Linked DNA regions of Homo sapiens: region 1 is linked to region 2. Evidence: fine-mapped expression QTL. Tissue or cell type: whole blood. Region 2 holds a variant in brackets; the other region holds the start of a gene. All regions are shown on one strand. Distances are between the middles of the regions.

What was found. PIP is the estimated chance that this variant, and not a neighbour inherited with it, causes the effect.
Region 1: UBAC1 starts here. The variant in region 2 is fine-mapped to the expression of UBAC1 in whole blood (TOPMed, PIP above 0.99).

What each region holds. Positions count from the first base shown.
Region 1 is chr9:135,956,925-135,965,075 of GRCh38, forward strand. It overlaps UBAC1 (UBA domain containing 1), which reads right to left and starts at 4,449. Exons shown (of 10, transcript NM_016172.3): 1 at 4,101-4,449. The coding sequence starts at 4,238. RefSeq lists silencers at 4,059-4,178, 4,189-4,598 and an enhancer at 4,069-4,569.
Region 2 is chr9:135,929,054-135,937,232 of GRCh38, forward strand. It overlaps UBAC1 (UBA domain containing 1), which reads right to left. Exons shown (of 10, transcript NM_016172.3): 10 at 3,916-4,462. The coding sequence ends at 4,347. Among named protein-coding and RNA genes, the nearest start is that of CAMSAP1-DT, 25 kb to the left of the region's middle. RefSeq lists an enhancer at 2,658-3,157. The variant C/T (reference allele first, on the strand shown) is at 4,000.

The DNA.
Region 1 (8,151 bases), 28 kb after region 2:
GCCTGGAGCTGGGCCGGGGCACCACCCCAGGACAGGCCGTCCTCGGACGTCTCAGGTGGCCGGGCAGACGCCCTGCTGGCAGCTCACTTTCCACCACCCTTTGCTGCCACAGAGGCTCTGAAACACCCAGCACACACAACTGCTTGCTGGGAAAGAAAATCTAAGCACACACTTCACCTCTCAACACTGGCATTTTCAGAGTAACTGGAATTTCTGTTACTCTCAAGACTGAAAACGGTTTTGAAAAAGGGATTGACGGCTTCAGGGGCTCACTCCTTCACACAAAACTGGCCAGGCTGAGGGGATGTTGGGGGGACGCAGCTACTAGGAAGACACACTCCTGCCATTTACAACAGGGCAGAGAACCCTCAAGTGCCTCTGGATTTGACAATGGCTCTGCTCCCTGAAATACTGGGGGTGCTTCCTCATGATCCTAAAGTTTGCAGGCTAGTTCATTTGTCAAGTTCAGAATACAGACTACGAAATGCAGTTTTCCAAAATAATTCTCATACTGATTCCCAAAAAACCCACAGTCCACGTGTCACCAGCACACCAGGAACAACACGGAAGCACTAGGACGACCGTGTCACTCTGCTTCTTTGTTCTCGGCAGAAGCTGGGGTATGGCAGCAAAAAAGCCCCAACCAAGGCCGCTGGAGTAGGGAGGCCCTCACACCCCCACCCCACTCCATCCTGCTCCTCCCCAGAAGAGTAGTGACTTCGTTTCTGCTTGTACCTGATGCAACCTGCCATCTGAGGACCCATCTTCATGCGATCTAGGAAATGGAAAATTTAACAGCTATACTAGCGGGTACTCTCTTCTAGTCTGGCAATTTTATGAACTCCTTCTTTTTTTTTTTTTTTTTTTAAAGACAGGGTCTCATTCTGTCACCCAGGCTGGAGTGCAGTGGCGCGATCTCCGCTTATTGCAACCTCCGCTTCCCAGGTTCAAGCGATTCTTGTGCCTCAGCCTCCTGAGTAGGTGGGATTACAGGAGTCCGCGACCATGCCAGGCTATTTTTTTACATTTTTAGTACAGAAGGGGTATTGCCATGTTGGCCAGGCTGGAATTTCATGAATGTTTACGACACACCAAAAACTCTACTGCACCACAGGTATAATTTTCTTTTTTTTTTTTTTTGAGACGGAGTCTCTCTCCGTCGCCCAGGCTGGAGTGCAGTGGCTTGATCTCGGCTCACTGCAAGTCCCACCTCCCAGGTTCACACCATTCTCCTGTCTCAGCCTCCCGAGTAGCTGGGACTACAGGTGCCCGCCACCACGCCCGGCTAATTTTTCTGTATTTTTAGTAAAGATGGGGTTTCACTGTGTTAGCCAGAATGGTCTCGATCTCCTGACCTTGTGATCTGCCTGTCTTGGCCTCCCAAAGTACTGGGATTACAGGCATGAGCCACCGTGCTCAGCCAGGTATAATTTTCTAAAACTCATTAACTACCTGTTGTACAAGACAGGTTCCTCTGCCCCCTTCTCCACTCCAGGGCAATGGAAGCTAGAGGCCACCACGGTGATCCCAATTTGCACAAAACAGAAAAGGGAAAGGCAAAAGCAAGAGTTTTGATCATAAAACCCCTCCTTGATTCAGGAGTGCACACCCAGGAGCACAGCAGGGAGAAGCCGACATCATTCCCCTCCAGGCAGATGGAAAAGAGGAAGGAAAAAATCATGCCGGCGTCAGCACGCACTGGGGACCTGGCGAGGAGGAACAAAGCTAAAACAGACACCAGACCTCACTGCCTACAGCAGGATGACATCCAGGGACCGGCTTCCAGAGAGACATTCAAATACACAACTCGAGGGTTCTCTTTTCTGACTAACGCATTCTGGCCCTGCCTGCAGAACCACGCTGGGATGTGGTGGTGGGGAACCTTTCTGACGCTCAGCTCTGGAGTCCTGAAATGTATGTCGGCTCTTGCGGTGTGAAAATCCCCTGCTACTCAGATCCTCCACACCTGTGGAAACCGCAGAGTGGGATACAATCTCAATTTAAAGTAGAATAATGACAAAACATCCCAAATGATACATCTCAACACCAAATGGAATAATATATATCAGGAGTATAATAATTAGCATTGCATCGGAACTGGCTGCCTAACTGACCCTCCGTGCTCCTGAAATTCATGAGTAGGTATCTGTGGATCAAACAGCTCTCATTTCCTATTTCCTTTCATAAAAGAGTATCATGATGGCCATGCACATCGCACCGAGTGAGTTAAAGTAAATGCCGTGCCAACGCAGGGGACATCCCATGTCGATGCAGTGTGGGGTCCACAGGATATTTTTGTCTATTCCATTAACCCACAAGTTTGTTTTGGTGCCACTCTAAGCCCGGCCCTGGACTTGTGGATATAAACCGAACCCCTGAGGAGCTTCTGTACTGGCTCAGGGAGGACACAGCAGCACCTCAGAGAAGTTTCTAGGGTTTTTTGTCTGGTTTTTTTTTTTTTTTTTTTTTGAGACGGAGTCTTGCTCTGTCGCCAGGCTGGAGTGCAGTGGCGCGATCTCATCTCACTGCAACCTCCGCCTCCCGGGTTCAAGCGATTACCCTGCCTCAGCCTCCCAAGTAGCTGGGATTACAGGCACACACCACCACGCCCCGCTAATTTTTTGTATTTTAGTTGAGACGGGGTTTCACCATGTTGGCCAAGATGGCCTCAATCTCCTGACCTCATAATCCGCCCACCTCGGCCTCCCAAAGTGCTGGGATTACAAGTGTGAGTTACCGTGCCCGGCCCAGAGAAGTTTTTTAAAATACACACAACTAGACAAGCAACACCACCTGGCTCAAACAGCCTGGATGCCCACGGAGTTACCGGCGCTGGAGCTTAGTGATGCCCCGATGGTTGTTCAGACGGCAAAATCATGCAGACTGGGGCAGAAGAAAAGCAAGAAAGCAGCCAAAACATACCGGCCCTTGAACGCAGGAGGCTCAGCCCCCTCCTTGGTGTGAATCCTGAGGCCAGCACCTCCCAGTTATTCACAGCCAGTGCGTTCCAGAAGGGGGCTTGCCAAGCTTGCCTCTGACAGTTCCAGAACTCCACAGAACCATGCTCACAAAAGCAACTCGAAAGTACTGTATGCGAGCAGCTACTATGGTAAGAACTGAAGTTTATCCTTAGAGACCACACTCAGCTCAAGTGTAACGCACTCAACCTGTCAACACAGATACGTCGTAACTTATCACATGGAGTCGCCACTAGAAAATTGCAGCCTCCTTCAACCTAAATTCTGCCAAGCCCTCAGATCATGTCAGGTATAGACAGGAGGTCAGTCTGACACACAGACAGGCTTCTTAGCTGACCTTACTGAGTCCTTTAGAGACTCGAGAACTAGTTCCAAAAATCAGCAACCTAAGGAACTAAATACACAGGAGTATTTCAGGTGAATAAACTTTAAAAAGTGTCTCCGCGAGGAGACCCTACTCCTGGGACTTCTCTCTTGACCAATTTTACCTCTGCAGAAAAGCAGGGGCGCAGGGCCTTGTCCCGCAGCGGCACTATTTCAGGGACTCCAGCTAAAAGGCACAGTGGCCTGGGGCCAGCCAGGAAAAGAGCTCCAAGCAGCCGGCTCTGCGGGAAAGGGGAAGAGGAAGGAGAAGGGGCCTCTTCATGAAGGAGCCTACGTTAATTCTCAGCTCTCAAAGATGCTGCTGAAAAAAAACCTCACCCCAACAGCAAAAAGGTACAACTGCCGGAAAGTCCCGAGGCCCTGCTCCGTCGGCGACTTCACTCTCCAGGCCTCAGTTTCCCGATCTGCCCCTACCTCCCTGCGTGGCTGCAGAGTTAACTGAGAGGCTGGCGTGTACAGGGCTCGGCCGGGCGGCTGGCACGGGGCGAGCGCTTAGTGACCGGAGTCCGCCGGCCGAAAGGCCAGGCCCGGGACGAGCGTCCAGAGGTGTGGGATCCGAAAGGGGGAGAGTCGGGCAAACGGGCAGGAGGCGCTGCCTCCACCCCCGGAGGAGAGGGCCTGGGAGCTGCGGACTGGGCGGCGGACCCCAGGTCGGGGCGGTTCGGGGACTGAGGCGGGGTCCGCAGTCGGAGGGGTCCGGAGCGGGTGTTGGGGGCAGGGGAGGGGGCCCGGCCTTACGTGCTTGAGGCAGCGCTCCTTGAGCTTCTCCACCGAGGTGTCCTCGGTGGCCTCCTCCAGCCACTCGGCGCCGTCGGACGCGCAGATGTGCAGCCGCAGCACCTTGCCCGCGAAGATCTTCTCCTCCTGCACGAACATCCCGCCGCCGCCGCAGGGGCCTGCGCCCGCCACCCGGGCCCCTGAAGGTCACCGGGAAGGCGGGCGGGGAGGGGGCGGGGCCAGACCGCCCGCGCGCTCCTTCGCTGGGCCGCCGCCCCGCCCCGGCTCCCGTCGGCCGGGCCGCCGTCACTCTCCGCGGCCTCAGCGGTCGCCTCGCTCCCGCCGCCGCAGCAGCCGCCGGGGGCGCGCCGTCGCGGCCGCACCGGAAGTGCGTCACGGGCGCGTCTGGCGCATGCCGGGAGATGTGGTTCTCGGACAGGCGCCTCGCTCCCGCCGCCGGGGGCGCGCTGTGGCCACCGCAAAGGAAGTGCGTCACGGGGCGCGCCCGGAGCATGCCGGGAGCTGTAGTTCTCTGGTAGCTTCGTTCCTCCCCGAGCTGCAGGCGGTTCCCACCCGGGGCACTCACCACGTGGGACCTCATGGGTTCTAAAGGTAAAATACACGCTGGATCCCAAAGAAGTAACGGGAAAAAGGAATGTAAGGCATCTCGATAATGTTTTCATATTGATTACATGTTGAAATAATATTTTGTATCTATTGAGTTAAGAAAAATATGTCATTAAAATTAATTTCACCTGTTTCTTTTAACCTTTTTAAGATAGAATTTTAAATTGCCTACATGGCTGCTGTGATATTTCTTTTGCACTGCACTGCTGTAGAACGGAGGCTCTCCAAAGAACTTGGCTTTAACAAGCCTAGGTCTTTCTAATTCACACGCAGATCAGAGAGTCACTGTTCCTGCGAAGCCTAGGTTTGCGGGGCACCCAGAGGGGAGGGAAGCCGCCCTTGGTGCAGGTGATGCCAGGCAGACTCATTTTCTGTGGGGTGTGACAAAGAGTCTTTGCTTGGCCAAACTTAAGCAGGCTCCTGAACCTTCTACATCATCTGTACACTTCCTTGTAAAATCCAGTTTTAGCGAAGAGCCTTGATAAGTGAGTTTAGCAAGAACTCCCAGCCTCAATATCAGATCACCCTGGACGTCTGGTCAGGTTCCTCGTCCCCCAGGTGCTGTCTGATATCTCCAGCCTCTCTTCAGCAAGAACCCTGTCAGGTCGGTTTAGCCAGAACCGCCCACATCCCTGATGTTTTCTCCTATTAATTTTCCATTCACTGACCCCACCCACTTGCCCTTGCTGTATTGGGAGTTGAGCCTGACCTCTCTCCCCACTGCAAGCCCCCTTGGCAGTGGTCTCTGTACCTAGCTCAACAGTCCTGGATAACGTCTTACTTACCATGCTCCTAAATATGAATTTTGTAGTTCAGGTTAGACCTGACACATTGACTGATCTGTACTCATTCATCCCATTCATTTAAAAAAACTTTACTGCGCAGAGATGAATAAGGCACAGTTCCCGTTCTCAGAGGTTAGCAATCTAACCGGGGAGGCTGTCTCTGCCTCCTGCCTGCAGGCTTTTATTCTGTCCACACCATTTTGCACACACATCCTCATTTTTCTCCTGTGATAATTCCAACCTCGTCCAGATTCCATGTGTCCAGTTCAGCACTTACTAATTGCCTCTCACAGGTGGGAGCCTCTGCTACTCAATGAAAATATGGTAGTGATTAAGACCAGACACCAGGATACAGTCCTGGAATGGGGCATTTTTAACGCAGGAAGCAGAAGTACCGACTGTTAGAGACCGCAGTGGAGGTGGTGGTAGTATCGTGGAAGCTGGTGGAGGAGAAAGGGGAGGAACACCAAGGTGGTGAGTGGAGAGTGGGGGAAGCTAGAGGGCTTGGAGGAGCCGGGTCAGAGCATTAAGACGTTGCTGTGAGAGCCACTAACGGTGTGACCAGGTGGCAGAATGAATGGTGGTGACTGTGGAGGGGACAGGGAAGAGGGCAGGGCATCCTTGCGGGGGAGCAATGCGGAGGGAGAGGAAGAGGAGAAGGGGGCTTCCAGTGGCCTGTGGGAGGGGAGGCCAGCAGGATTGGAGGGTGTGGGCCCAAGAGTGAAATCAAGGATGACTTGAAGACTTCCAGTGTGGGTGGCAGAGTGCAGGGCAGTGCCACCTTTTGAAGTAGGAGGCAGGAGGAGGAGCCATTGGCCAGGAAGGTGTTGGGTAGTTTTGGACACGGGGACCTGGATGTGCTGGGGGCATTCACACGGAGGTGGCCTGGAGGCAGCTGGACCTACAGGACTGAAGTTGAGGAGAGAGGCCTGGGCTGGAGACAAACACTGGGCAGCCGGCCTGGGCCACGTAGCAAGACCCTCTACAAAAAATAAAAAAAATTAATGAGCTGGGCGTGGTGGTGCACACCTGTGGTCCCAGCTACTCAGAAGGCTGAGGTGGGAGGATCACCTGAGCCCAGGAGGTCCAGGCTGCAGTGCGCCGTGATGGCACCACTGCACTCCAGCCTGGGCAACACAGCAAGACCCCGTCCCAAAAAAACAAAACAAAACAAAAAAGTCAAACCAGTCATGAGCACACCAGCGGCAGCTGGAACTAAGAGGATGCCCACCCCCCTTCCCATGCAGAGGAGCTCATGAAGAAAACAGAGGAGTATGGTACTAGGAAAGTTCCAAGAGTGTGGCTCCATGAAACACAAGGCGGAGAAGATATTGAGGAGAAAATGGGGCCTGTAAGAGAAGAACCAGAAATATCACGTCATCTCAGGGAGCGTCTCCAGGGACCGGAAGGGGACTGGGGCCCAAGCCTGCCTGGCTGCAGATCTGGTATCTGCAGCCACAGTGATGCTGCATAACAAAACCGTCCTAAAACTCAGCGGGTAAAACAACCAACAGCTCTCCATCACTTCTCACAAGTCCACGGCTGGCTGGGTGGTGCTGCTGACCAAGCCAGGCTGGCAGGTGGGCTGGTCGGGATCCCTAGGCCCTCAGCCTCGGTCTCATGTTCCCCAGTGAGTTCCCACGGGAGTGTCTGGGATCCACCGCAGCAGGTTTTTCAGCCTTTGCTTGAGCCATGTTTGTTGATGTCCTCTGGACCAAAGTCAAAGAGGGAGGGGACAAAGTGACAGGGAAAGGATGGAGCCATGGGAAAGCCACCAAGAGGCCACAGATGCACCTGTTCCACCTTCCAAGAAGGCTGGGGGAACAGAGAGAGGAGGGCACCAGCCACGGGGTGCCCAGCAGCATGTTTACATTAGAGAGGCTGGGCGCGTTTCTGGGCTGAGCGTGAGAGCGGGCAGAGGGGAGGCTGGGGCTGGAGGAAGGAGGAGGGATGGGGTGGCTGGGGAGGGGGCTGAAGCTGTGGCCTCAGGGCATCCCGCTTGCTTCTGACAGGAAACATCTGAACCCCCCATCCTGGCATCAAACCTTCCCAGTCTCCCTGTTTCCTCCTGGCCACGGGCTTTACAGCGGGGGGACAGTGCCATCACAAGGACCCTGCAAGGGTCCACAGAGGCCACGCTAGCAAAGACTCAAGCCAAAGCTGACCTGAGTCCTGGAGGAACGCCTGTGCCCTCCCGTGGAAGGATAGGAGGTTCGTGGTACTCTGAGACCACTCCAGCCCCCACCCCGCTTCACCCACGAGGCTGTCAATTGATGGGTTCTCATTGTCTCCCCTCCTCTCATGGGTTTGAGGCTGTTTCCTATAACAAATTGCCACAAACTGGGGCTGGGGGGTGGTGCTTAAAACAATAGAAATGTATTTTCGCCCAGTTCTGAAGGCCGGAAGTCTGAAATCCAGGTGTTCATGGGCCACGCTCCCTCTGGAGCCACAGGGGAGGGTCCTTCCTGCCTCCTCCAGCTCCTGGGGACTCCGGGGTTCCTTGGCCTGTGGCCACATGGCTGTAGCCTCTGCCTCCATCTTCATGCAGCCTCTCCTCTTCCCATGGCTGTCCTTTGTGTGCCTCCCATGAGGACACTTGTCATTGGATTTGGGGCCACCCTAATCTAGGATGATCTTACCTGGAGATCCTGAACTTAATT
Region 2 (8,179 bases):
CTCATTCTGAGCCCCTAAGGACAGCTTGTGGGTGAAGGGAGCCCCTCTTGGGAATGTGGAGAAGAGAGTGGGGCACCTGCTGGCCAAAGAAAGCCCTGGGCCCACCCCCAGTTATGTGGGCAGTGACAGTTGGGGACAGGGCACTCAGCCATGCTCCCCGGCGACTGCTGGGTGATGAGCAGCCCAACCGCAGGCCCTGGCCCTGCCAGCCCTGGGCTTAGGCTGAACCCGTCAAAAAGGCCCTGCCTGGCCTTGGAGAGCCCACCGTGCCCTGCGGGGTATGAGGCTGGCAGACCCTTGAGGACCAAGCCAGGAGACATCCCTGGCGGAGACTCGATCCCAGGAAAGTGCCGGGGGTGCACTGGCAGGTTCCCCTGCAGGAAGCCAGCTCTTGGGAGCCCAGAATGCAGGCACCACCCCACAGGGGGCTCCCTCAGACTCCCTCGTGTGCCAAGCCAGTGAGCCCGCCTGGGAGTGGGGCAAGGGTGGACCTCACTTAAGTGCAGCTGTTCAAGGGGAGACCGTCAGGCGGGAAACCAGAGCGAGCTCTGAGAGAACGTCGAAGAGCCACTAACTGCCTCAGACCCCCGCCCCCAGCCCTGCCCAGTCTGCAGCATCCAAACCCTTGTCCCCCAGAGCCACATGGCTGTGTTCTCTGCCTGGGAGTCAGTCCCCAGCCAGGCACCAGGCATCCTCACCTGGAGGCAGCTGTGCCTTCCAAGCCTCCACTGGGCACAGAAAGCTGCTTGCAGGTGCCACACCCGACTCCCGGCCCTAACCCGAGAGAGAGCCCCTGGGTGGGCGGGGGCACCCCTGGGCACATGCTGTCTCTGGGCGGTGCTCTCATGGTTAGGAGGCTCGGCCACATCTGCACATGAGGGTTCCTTCTCTCCAGCCTGTGCTGGGCCCAGAACGCCAACAATGCCCTTCCTCTGGCTGAGGCTGTGCCCAGCGCATGAATGCTCTGCCCACCCCACACCCTGCAAATGGCAGCTCATCCTCCTGCCTTCCCGTGGGACCAAGCATGCCTCCAAGGGCAGCGAAGGGCACGGGGGCGAACCCCACAGCTGGGCTGAGGCTGACCCAGGCAGGCCCCACCTGCTCCCCGGATGCACTGAGGCCCCCGATGGTGCTGTCCCCACACCCCCAGCAGGAATGTCCTCTGGGATTCAGGCTCCTGCGGTCTCTGGCTCCCATGCTCCCTGTCCCAGCCCCACCTCCCACCCGCCTGTTCCAGCGAGTGTTTTCCAAGTGCCTCCACAACCAGCCAGCCCTGAAACGGGACGGAGCAGGGCCCTGACCTCGAGAAGGATGCAGGCTGGTGGACCCCCAGCCTCTCCCACATCCAGTACCTCCCGGAGCCCCCCAGTCCCCACCAGCTGACAGTGAGCCCCACCCCTGCCTTCAGACTCCTCACCCGGGGTCCCACCGCCATGCCAGCTCGCTGTAGTGGCCCAAGTGGCTGGGCCACCTCTCTCTGCACCTGGGGGGAGGAATCCCCTGCTTGTGTGGACGGCGCCTACAGTCGGCACAGCAATGTCCTGACCCCACGATCTCAGGGGAAGTCACCCCTCCAGCAGCTGAGCCACGCTGTCCTGGAATCTCAGCATGATCCCACTCCACGAGGAAACGCATGTGTCATCGCCAAGCTCGGCCACCGGAGCAGGAGGGAATGCTGGCCAAGTGAGCCATCTAACTCCCTCCACCTTCCCTGGCACACAGGTGACCTGCCTCGGCATCACACCCTGGTCTAGAGCCCTGAGTATGGCCACAGGGCACTGCCCAGGGGTCCTGCTCCACAGGACCCCGGAAGAAGAAAAACGGCTTAGCAGAAGCTCAAAATGACACAGGTGGCCCTTATCTCAACAGAGCAATGTGCACCGGAACATCTGTGTACGACCCAGCGTCCCCGACCCAGCACCCACGCCCCCCAGAGCCAGGCAGCCTGGCCCCATGGGCTGAGAAGCCACTTGGCCCTCAGCAGCTGGAACACAACTGCGCTCAGGGCCAGGCTCGGCCAGCTGCCTGCCCCTAGTTCATGGGCCACTGTGGCGAAGGCACACATGGACAGCAGCGTTACTGGTCATGGAACTGAAGTCCACGTAAACGAAGAATTTCTAGAGTTTGCCGGCCATTTCATTTCACCTTGTAAGATACAACCTCAGCCCTAAAATACGCGTGCCAGACACAGGCTGTGTTCACAGGGATGGTGCCTCGCCCATGTGTGCGCTGATGGCCTGGCCCAGAGAAGCGGCAGGACTGCAACCAGGCCCAGAGCACTCCCCACCTCCCCAGCAGCCGCTGCAGGAGCAGAAACCACATTCACCAGGGCAGCTGCGACGTGCTCCAGAACCCATCTACGGACGGCCCGCAGCCCCTGGGAAGGCCTCGGCGGCACGTGGTGTTTACTCACCCAGAACTCCACAACTGCATGCAAACCGCGACCAGGTTAAAACGTGGATCCACGCTCACCAGAGGACAGGGCTGGGTGAGAACGCGCATTCCCGACCTCAGGGCCTCTGGGGACTGAAAGGCGGGCGCGGCAGAACACGGGGCTAGCGGAGGAGGCGCACCTGGAGAAGCTGCATGTGCAGGACCAGCCAACGGGAGCGAACGCAGCATCTCCGAGGAAAGGCACTGGCACACACTTCCCTCCTCATGGCCACATCAGGCAGGTGTTGGTGTGGCCCCTCGCCCACCTTGTGGACGCTCAGGCCACAGCAAGATGAGCCAGGCAGCCAGCGAACCCGTGGAAAGCACGGCTCCACAGCCCGCAGGAGGCGGGCTGAGGACACACCTGTCCAGAGGTTCCTCGGAAGGAATTTCCCAACTTTGACTCTTAAACTCGCTGAGGAGAACATTCTCTTCCGACTCACAAGTTTGCCAAAAGAGGATGGCGGGCAAGGAGGGCACTGTGGCTGGCTAGACCCTGCTGACGTGGGGCGGGCCGAGGGCCTGTGGCCTGGCAGCAGGGTAGTAGACAGGCATCTTTTTTTTTTTTGAGACTCCGTCTCAAAAAGAAGTGAGATTCGCTACTTTTTTTTTTTTTTTTGAGACGGAGTCTTGCTCTGTCGCCCAGGCTGGAGTGCAGTGGCGCGATCTTGGCTCACTGCAAGCTCCGCCTCCCGAATTCACACCGTTCTCCTGCCTCAGTCTCCCAAGTAGCTGGGACTACAGGCACCCGCCACCACACCCGGCTAATTTTTTGTATTTTTAGTAGAGACGGGGTTTCACCGTGTTAGCCAGGATGATCTTGATCTCCTGACCTCGTGATCCGCCTGCCTCGGTCCCCCAAAGTGCTGGGATTACAGGTGTGAGCCACCGCGCCCGGCCGAGATTCATTACTTTTGAAAAGCATTTTTAATATTTCTGCCCAAAGAGTTTAAATTAACTTTAGTTTTAAATCTAAATCTCAAAAACAATGAAAAGACCTAGATGTGTGGAGAGAAACATTTTCCGAAAACATTCTTACTCAGCTACAATGCAAGCAGAGTTCAGAAGGGGAGGGGGCTGGTTCAGAAGAGAAGTTCAAAACAAACAGCTCGGAACTGACTGCTTCCAGCAACAATAATGAGCAGAGTTCACAAAAAACAAAATAAATTCATTTTCTCATTTTAAGACACCGGTCATGTTTTTTAAAATGAAAAAAAAGGAGGAAGAGGCCAGAGGTAGGCGGAGGCAGCCGTGCTTGGGCTCAGGACCTGTGTCCCAGGAATACGGGCTCAGCTCCAGTCCCTTAAACCCAATACAACACGAGGCTTTGCCAACCAAACATGGCCACAAGGCCTCCCACATGCTGCGGTGGCCCCGGTGCCCGCCCCGGGTCAGAGCAGCCGGCACGGAGCCGCGGGGATGTGGCCTCTCGGGGACGCACGGGTTTCTTGTGCGGCACCAAGAAAAGACGAAGACAGGAAATAGGAAAAGGGACTTTATTAAAGAAAAGTCATCTGTGAGTGACTAGTTAAATTAGCATGCTTGACATTAACTCTGGGTTGAAAC[C/T]TACCTCCGTCAAATAACAAGTGGACTCTCCAAGCAAATGTCTACACGGCAATTCAAGCAGCAACTCAAGAGCCCAGAGGAGCACTGGAGACGAGGCCATCACTCCACTTCCCAGTGCGACAACCACTTTTTTGTAAACACCTGTCAGATGCTAAAAATACGGCCTTACACACTACCGTCACCAAAGTTTATAAGCAATAAGATCAGAGAGCAGGAGCAGCTGCAGCACCTCTAACAGTCCAGGGCTGAGGCGCTGAAGGTGAGTTTCCAGGTGAGGTCCACTCTGCCCGGTCTCGGGCCGCACCAGGGGGCTGCTGTGGCCTGATAGCCGAGTGGAACAACGCCACCTACGTGCGATTTAGTGTCTGGAAGATTCTAGAGATCTGCAGCATGACAGGCCCCGTTTCTGGATCATTCATCCACTGGGTGCTGTTCAGTGGGTTCTCCAGCATGTCTTCAAATGCTGCAGGGAAAACAGAGCCAGCCTGAGTGCCCACGCCCCCACTCAGCCCACAGGCACAGGCGTGACTTTCCTCTTCGGCAGCTTCCTAATGAAGAGGGTGCGTCTCCAATACAAAGGCCACACAGAGCTCACTGCTAAGTGTGCACTCTCAGGCTGAAACCCACCCAACTCCATCGGATGCACCCATCAAATCAGATCTGATCACAGAGAGTCATGCACTCAATTCTGGCAGGTGGGCAGTGTGCCTGTGCGTGCTCATGGCACCCCCACTCTCGGCAGCTGTCTGGCAGCCGCCAGGGCTCAAAAATCATCTTCCCCAACAACTCCACTTCCAATCCCACCCCGAGAAGGTCAGCAGATGCAGAAAGGACACACACAGACACTGTTGCAAAGTTAACAACAAACTGGAAAAACGTAATGCTCAGCCTTCAGAAAATTCCTTCTTCAAAAAACCAGCACATTAAAAATGCAACACAGCACTTCTTCAAAATGAAAACTTGGGTTTTAACAGCTTTACAAAACTGTTTCCCCAAAACAGGTGGCTTTTAGCAAAAAGCTCTCTGTTCCACCCACTGTGAAGGAGCACGCGTTCTGCCAGCCCCTCTGCCAGGATCGATGGCTCCATGCTGACCTGACACACATGGACGCACTTCAGCATAAGTGGCCCCAGGTCTACAGGCTCCAGGGACAGTGCTCACTACAGAATTCACAGCCATTCACGGCCCAGTAGCCCATGGCTGAGCACAGAGCTCAGAGTGAACCCAACTTGGCTCTGTTCATGATTGGACAATCCCCAGGCCTTAAAACAATCCTCTGGTGTTCTGATTAAAAGTCTCCAAAAACCACTTTAAAATCTCAGAAAAAGCCAGGCACGGTGGCTCATGCCTGTAATTCCAACACTTTGGGAGGCCGAAGCAGGCGGATCATGAGGTCAGGAGATCGAGACCATCCTGGCTAATACGGTAAAACCCTGTCTCTACTAAAAATATAAAAAATTAGCTGGGCGTGGTGGCAGGCGCCTATAATCCCAGCTACTCGGAAGGCTGAGGCAGGAGAATAGCATGAACCAGGGAGGCGGAGCTGGCAGTGAGCCGAGATTGCGCCACTGCACTCCAGCCTGGGCAGCAGAGTGAGACTCCGTCTCAAAAAATAAAAATAAAAATCCCAGAAAAAGACTCAGAAAGAACAAACTATAAGGTGCGAAACAGCTGTTTCACACACAGGGCGGGGAACTTAATTTCCCATTTCCTCTCAATAAACAGCAAAATAAATTCTGGAAGGATGAAAGAGTTGAACAAAAAGATAAAGAGTTAAATATGAAAAACCACACAGATGATTATTTATCTGAGGAAGGACTTTCCTTTTTGAATTTAATTTTTTTTTGAGACAGCGACTTGCTTTGTTGCCCAGGCTGGAGTGCAGTGGAGTGATCATGGCTCACTGCAGCCTTGAACTCCCAGACTCAATGATCCTCCCACCTCAGTCCCCTGAGTAGCAGGGACTACAGGTACGTGTGCCACCACTCCTGGCTGATTTTGTTTTTTTGTTTGTTTGCTTTTTTAGTAGAGAGGAGGTCCTGCTATGTTACCCAGGCTGGTCTCGAACTCCTGAGCTCAAGTGATCCTCTTGCCTCAACCTCCCAAAGTGCTACAATTACAGGCATGAGCCACCATGCCCAACCTGAGGAAGGACTGTCTTCTGTATATCCTAACTTCTGTATGTCAGAAAATGCCACACAAAATTAGAGAGCAAAAACAGTTTACAACATTCAACAAAGGAAGATGTGCCTAATATCCAAGAAGCTATTAAGGAAGCTCTAGGATTAATATTGCAATTGAAAAACACATGTGCCAGGCACAATGGCTCTCGCCTACAATCCCAGCACTCTAGAAGGCAGAGGTGGGGGGAGCGCTTGAAGCCAGGAGTTCAAGACTAGCCTGAGCAAAAAAACGAGACCCCATCTCAACAACAACAAAAAAAATAGCTGGGCATGGTCGTGCATGCCTGTAGTCATAACTACCCATGAGGATGACTTGAGCCCAGGAGGTCAAGGCTGCAGTAAGCTGTGATTGTACCACTGCACTCCAGCCTGGGTGACAGATCAAGACCCTGTCTCCATAAAAAGAAGGAAAACAAATAGATGACACGCATAGACAGTATGTAAAAGAAGAAATGCAATGGCCAACAGAAAAGTATTCAACATTGCTAATAACCAAAAGGAATGCAAGTGGCCAGGCGCAGTAGCTCAAGCCTGTAATCCCAGCACTTTGGGAGGCCGAGACGGGCGGATCACGAGGTCAGGAGATCAAGACCATCCTGGCTAACACGGTGAAACCCTGTCTCTACTAAAAATACAAAAAATTAGCCGGGCACGGTGGCGGGCACCTGTAGTCCCAGCTACTCAGGAGGCTGAGGCAGGAGAATGGCGTGAACCCGGTAGGCGGAGCTTGCAGTGAGCTGAGATCGTGCCACTGCACTCCAGCCTGGGTGACAGAGCGAGATTCCATCTCAAAAAAAAAAAAAAAAAGAGGAATACAAGTTAAAACAATGAAGGTCTTGTCTATAATATGGAGGTGGGCAAGTGTGTGTGCTGGGGGCAGATCTTGCATGGACAGTGGCGCCATCACTGCACTCTAGCCTGGGTGACAGAGAAAGAGCCTATTTCTATTAGGAAAAAAAAAAGAAAAAGTTATTGGACAGACCCCAAGGCAGCACACACTAACATCCTAAGGTATACAAACAGCTGGAGAGCTAGGAGGAATATGCTTTCAGTGTGAAAGGAATCACTAAGAATAAAAATAAACTCACAAAAGACCATTCTCAAGTTTTAGAATTTGGGTACAAAGAAGATCCCTACCTCACACCACACACATACTTCTAGGTAGATTATGGACTTAAATTAAGAGAAACTTTTAACATTTTTGGAAAAAAAAATAAAAGGAAAACGTGTTTCTGACTTTCGGATAGGAGGGTTTTCCTTTTTCTTTTTTTTTTTTTTGAGGTGGAGTCTTGCTCTGACGCCCAGGCTAGAGTGCAGTGGCACGATCTCGGCTCACTGCAACCTCCGCCCCCCAGGTTTAAGCAATTCTCTGCCTCAGCTCCAGAGTAGCTGGGATTACAGGTGCATACCACCATGCCCAACTAATTTTTTGTATTTTTAGTAAAGACAGCGTTTCACCATCTTGGCCAGGCTGGTCTTGAACTCCTGACCTCGTGATCCACCTGCCTCAGCCTCCCAAAGTGCTGGGATTACAGGCGTGAGCCACCACGCCCAGCCATGGAGGGTTTTCTTTAAAGGTTCACATCTTAAAAAAAATACAGACACACTGAAGGACATCAAAACACGGGATTCTGCCCATCAGTGTGAGGAAATAAACCAGAAACTGAACAACGGCATCTGCAACACAAATAATGGGAAAAGGGTCAGCATCCAGGAGGTGAGGACCTTTCTGAATGAATAAGAAAACAATCCAAGAGAAAAGCAGGCCAAACGCTGAGCGGAAGGTCTCTCACAGCCAAGGTTCTACAGGCGGCCAATACGCTTCTGAAAGAAGGCCAGCCTTCAAGATCAGGGCACGGCCATCGCAGCTCCAGAGACACTTCCAGCCTGCTCGGGTGGCAAAGGCCCTCCCAACATCCAGGAACTCAGCTCCTGGGGACCAACAGGTCTGTAATCCCAGCACTTAGGGAGGCTGAGGCAGGTGGATCACGAGGTCA